Regions from separate parts of the Homo sapiens genome. Here region 1 is linked to region 2. Evidence: fine-mapped expression QTL. A gene starts in region 2. The other region holds a variant in brackets. All regions are shown on one strand. Distances are from middle to middle.

Region 1 (2,923 bases), 32 kb before region 2:
GACAACATAAGAATATCCAAACAATGTTGTCAATATCAAAAGAAAAAATCAAAACATCTTTTATAATATAAAATAAATCCATATAATTAAGTACTAATTAGGTGAAATAACATTATAGGGTATATAACGTTTATTTTCTCTATTTAAATTTGCATATCTTAAATTTATTTGTTTTTATTTTATTTTTTCCTGAGATGGAGTCTCACTCTGTCACCCAGGCTAGAGTGTAGTGGCACAATCTCAGCTCACTGCAACCTCTGCCTCCTGGGTTCAAGAAATTCTCCTGCCTCAGCCTCCTGAATAGCTGGGATTACAGGCGTGCACTACCATGCCCAGCTAATTTTTACATTTTTAGTAGAGATGGGGTTTCATCATGTTGGCCAGGCTGGTCTCCAACTCCTGACCTCATGATCCATCTGCCTTGGCCTCCCAAAGTGCTGGGATTACAGGCATGAGCCACCTCGCCAAGCTGCATATCTTAAATTTAATGTGAAACATCATGTTTCAACTTCGACTTAAGAATATCATGACATACAGTTTTTGGTGAGTCTAGATGTAATGGAATGAATATTTAAATAGACTTCAAAGATTTTATCAAGGTTGTATTTGGTTATCATTGCTTTAAGTCTTTAATGCTTTTCTTTCTTTATTGGACTAAGCCAATTTTAGAAACAAAATCCACAACCAACACACATACAATGCCGATGTTTCTGAAAAAACTAAATAGTATTATGTTTAGTATATCATTAAAATAGTGATTGTGGTTAAACAAACAAGCAAACAAACAAATTACTGCAACTCATAGATGATAAACTTATAGAAAGCAACATTTTAGAAGTTCCATCTGGTGTGTTTGCACTGTAAGAAAATAAATCTGGATATGAGTATGTAGGGTCCAGCCCTACAGGGTCAGTGAGTTTTCTCCTCATGTGTGGAGATGAGAGAGTGTAGAAATAAAGACACAAGACAAAGAGATAAGAGAAAAGACAGCTGGGCCCAGGGGACCACTACCACCAAGATGCAGAAACCGGTAGTGGCCCCAAATGCCAGGCTGTGTTGATATTTATTGGATACAAGACAAAGGGGTAGGGTAAGGAGTGTGAGCCATCTCCAATAATAGGTAAGGTCACGTGGGTCATGTGTCCACTGGACAGGGGGTCCTTCCCTCCCTGGCAGCCGAGGCAGAGAGAGAGAGAGGAGAAAGAGAGAGAGAGCTTACACCATTATTTCTGCTATCAGAGACTTTTAGTACTTTCACTAATTTGCTACTGCTATCCAAAAGGCAGAGCCAGGTGTACAGGATGGAACATGAAGGTGGACTAGGAGCATGAC[C/G]ACTGAAGCACAGCATCACAGGGAGACAGTTAGGCCTCCGGATAACTGCAGGCGGGCCTGACTGATGTCAGGCCCTCCACAAGAGGTGGAGGAGTAGAGTCTTCTCTAAAATCCCCTGGGGAAAGGGAGACTCCCTTTCCCGGTCTGCTAAGTAGCAGGTGTTTTTCCTTGACACTGACGCTACCGCTAGACCAGGGTCTGCTTGGCAACGGGCATCTTCCCAGATGCTGGCGCTACTGCTGGACAAAGGAGCCCTCTGGTGGCCCTGTCCGGGCATAACAGAAAGCTCGCACTCGTCTTCTGGTCACTTCTCACTATGTTCCCTCAGCTCCTATCTCTGTATGGCCTGGTTTTTCCTAGGTTATGATTGTAGAGCAAGAATTATTATAATATTGGAATAAAGAATAATTGCTGCAAACTAATGATTAATGATATATATATAATCATATCTAAGATCTATATCTAGTATAACTATTCTTATTTTATATATTTTATTATACTGGAACAGCTCGTGCCCTCGGTTTCTTGCCTCGGCACCTGGGTGGCTTGCCACCCGCATGAGTAAGATGTGCTTGACTGAATAAATGAGATCCCCAGCTAGCACTGGGCTATGTTCCAGAGCAGTGCATCTGTCCTAATATGTTACATCAGGAATGTTTGTTCACAATCCACCAGCTGCAGGTTTTCATTTACTAAGAATTGAAAGCAATTAATCCTGGTCCATCCACTCCTTCCTCCGTTGTTTTACTATCTTTGCTTTGAGATCAGGTACTTTGTGCCCAGGATTGTGGCAATGCATGTTTACTAAAAATGCATCCATTGATGGTAGAATAATTGTACTAAATTAATAAAGGAAGAGAGTGTCTTCATGTAGAAAACAGAGCACTAAATTATAATTTTACAGTCACAGCACAAGCTCCAGCTCTTCCTAGGCACAGTGGAGCAACCCGGGTCCACTCTTTGTCTGGGATCATGAGCCTCCACTGTATTCAGGTATGCCTGTCCATCATACCTCCCAACAGCATAAAACTTATCAACAAGTAAACAGACCTCCACTGCATCTCTGCTGATGCTCATTGATTCTACTGTAGTCCACATGTCTGTTTTGGGATCAGATGTCTCCACACAATCTGAGAGTCTGGAAGTCAAGTTGGATGTGAGAGCATCATGTTCCCCTATAGCATACAGCAGTCCGCTCCGGGTCGTTACTCCTATGCCACCTCTCCTTTTTGACATCCGTGCACACAGTGTCCATGTTGGGGTGATCAGGCCTAACACCAGGCCGTGGGGGCTACAAAGTCTGGCGGGGTCAGAGGAATGTGAAAAGATAAGTTAAAAGTGCATAAAGTGGGTCCGGGGGGCCGGCACTAGATTGAAGGCTGCAAAGGCCCCGAGCTCTGGGAGCCCACACTATTTATTGGTGATCAAACAAAGAAGCAGGTGGTGAGGATGTGAGGGTAAACAGGTGAGGGCATGAGAACGTGGGGATAGAAAGCTAGTGGTGCATTAAGCGTAGCTGTGACAGCTTAGCACTTCCTTTGATGCATGTAGAATATGCTCTGCTACTTGAGATAATGGAGGACATGTTTAC
Region 2 (2,923 bases):
TGTTAGTTTTCTCTGTAGAGGTTCTCTGTAGAGTACATCTTGGATTTGTTTCTAGGTACAGGAAACTTTTTAAAAATATATTTTATATAGACCAGGGTCTCACCACGTTGCTCAGGCTGGTCTTGAACTCCTGGCCTTGGCATCCCAAAGTGCTGGGATTACAGATGTGAGCTACTGCACCCAGCCAGGAAATGTATTTTCTATTGCTCTCCCACAACTCCCACCACATCTTCTCCATCTGCATGAAATCATATTCTCTGTATGGTATCTGTAAAGTCATATCTTATTCTGAGAAATGTCCATTTCTGCATCAATACTCATCGCATGTATTCTAAATATACTTTGTCTTGTTTGTCTTGTATATAGGTTATTGTAGTTACTTGACCTGTGCCGAAATGTTAAATGTGTGTAAGTTCATGTCCTTCATTCTGGCTTTTTATTCACTAATAGTCATCAGCATCCTTACTGTCAATACAAGAGATGCTCCTTCTCAATATTTTGATATGGTAGTACAAGGATTCCAAAGGAGGAACCTTCTTTTTTAGCAGCTGTGTTTTTTGTTTTGGTTGGCAATTCACTAAGGACTCATCTCATCATGTTATGAGGGAGACATTCTTGGAAGCATGGCTCCTTTTCCGACTCTTCTCAGCACACAGCTGTCACCCATGCTTTGCTGTGAGATGGGGTGCCCTACAGATGGATGGGGTTTACAGGCTTAAGGTTACTGATGTCTTTTCATAAGACATTATTGCCTTGTTTGTTTGTTCTTCAGAAAACAAATTCTAGGGAGCCGGGGTTAATCTGTTCCATAGTCTGAATGTGTTACTGAAACACCAGGGGTTTTGTCTGGGTCCCATTGCATGCTGCACAGCCAATCACTGCCGGGAGGAAGGGCTTTATTCAGGTGCTGCAGCCAAGGAGAATGGGAGATAAGTCTTGAATCCATCTCCCTGACCGGCCAAAATTGGAGGGTTATATAACAGTGGAAGGGATGTAGCTATGTTTGGGAAGGAGTTAGGGAGGGGTAAGAACGCAGCCATGATGAACGAGGGATCCAGTGTCTCCCTGTCTGGATGCAGTGATCTAGTGAATTTGAGAAAGGATTACCCTGTGGAGGGAGGCAACAGGAGGGAGCCTTCTCTCTGGAGCCCCTGGGCATGCTTTGAATTTGAGCCATATAAATCTATTACCTATTAAACTGAGAAGAGAACTAGGTACGCAAGAAGCCAAGTCACTGGGGCGGTGGGGACGATACTTCTCATTTGTAGCCTTTCAATTTGGTGCTCTGTCTGGCTGTTTTGAGAGCTAAACTGTAAGTTGAGACCCCATAGTCACCAGATGAGGCCTGAGGTTCCAGGACTGAAGGGACAGAGTCGGTTTCTGAAACTGACAATCTCTGTTTCTTTTACATGGGCTTCAAACATAGAAATGAAGTGGCTTGGCCTCACTCGCCAGGAGGGGAAATCTGGGCAGTTGGCTGGTGGGTTGACATTGTCCCTCACACCAGTCCTGTAAATTACTCAGGAAGGCCCAGGCCTGGAGAACTAAGACTTGGCTTTCACTGCTTAGCCTGGAAAGGAACTGAGATGGCCAAAGAGGGCTTTATAGAAACAGTGTCAGTGGCCCAGAAATCCTGGAAATCTCCCAAGCTCCAAGGATCAGTTGATCTCTGTGTGTGTCTCCTGCACATAGAGAGCTCCACTCAGTTCTGTGGTCTTTGGGCTGGTGGCCCCAGGGGCCCCTCCCTTGGCACTTGTCCAGGTAACTGAAAAACCACTCTGATATGAGGGTTGGCCCTGCATTAATTTTATCTACTGCATTAGAGGCAGTAGGGTTGTCTCATTGCCTGCCCTGCCAGCTCCTGTGAGTGGTAGAGCCAGCCCTTCAGTGTGGGGCTGGTGGGGGAGCAGTTCCCAGTGAAGGCATTTGAGTTGCATCCCAGCAGGATACCACTCGTTTGCCCTGCTGCACAGACTGGCCTCACTGGCCTCCTAGCACTTCCCGGCTCCATCTGGAGACTTCTAAGTAGATACCTAACCACACTTCCTCATTGTCTCTGTCCCTGCCTCCCTATCCACTGCCATCAAGGCTGGCACATCAGGAACAATAGTGCCCTCCGAGGAAGGGGTGAGGGAGAGATTTCACAATTTATCAAGACCTGAGTGCAGGCACAGGCCACCTGCTGTCTCCTCCCTTCCCATGGCATTCCTTGGATTAACCGTGCCTCTGAGGATGTGAGATGTCCCTGTCATGCCTCCGTGATTGAGTATGTGGGAAGGACTTCTGATGAATCCCTTCATTTCACAGATGGGAAAAACTGAGGCCAGTAGAAGGAGCAGAGTGGGAGCCTGATCCTGATCTTGCTGGAATCGGGCTCCCAGAAGGGAGTGGGGTCTGGAGGCTGGCGGTGGGGGGTGGTGGGGAGGGAGTCTCTGCAACAAAGCAAAATTCCTGGAGGGGATGAGGTGGGACACATGCAGGGTGGGAAGTCTTGGGAAAAGCCTACATTGCTGGGCTGTCCAGAATGGACAAGTACCGAGGGGCCCCTGGTGCCACCAGCCCAACGGATCACAGAACTGGGTGGAGCTATGTCCAGAAATGGAAACCTCAGCTAACAGGACCTGGGCTGAAGCAAAGGGGCCTGTGGGTGTTGACCAGGTGGCCTCAGGGAAGGTATCCCAGAAGAATGGTGTGTGTGAGGCTTATAGTGGACAGATGGGGGACAGGCCTTGAACCTACAAAATGAGGTTCAAGGCCTGCCAGGCTGTCTGTCTGTTGCAAACAGTGGCCCTGAGGAGAGTGAGGGTCACCCTGTAGGCCGGGGGTCTTTCTCAGCAGATGACATAGTACCACCAGAGTGATGGAGAACAGGCAGATGGACCCCACACCTGTCTGTCCTGTACCTCAGAGTTTGTGGCGTTAC

The links. PIP is the estimated chance that this variant, and not a neighbour inherited with it, causes the effect.
Region 1: its variant is fine-mapped to the expression of MIF-AS1 in sun-exposed skin (GTEx, PIP above 0.99).

The regions. Positions count from the first base shown.
Region 1 is chr22:23,928,877-23,931,799 of GRCh38, reverse strand. It overlaps the pseudogene KLHL5P1. Among named protein-coding and RNA genes, the nearest start is that of GSTT2B, 31 kb to the left of the region's middle. The variant C/G (reference allele first, on the strand shown) is at 1,333.
Region 2 is chr22:23,897,233-23,900,155 of GRCh38, reverse strand. MIF-AS1 (MIF antisense RNA 1) reads left to right here and starts at 1,226. Exons shown (of 3, transcript NR_038911.1): 1 at 1,226-1,312.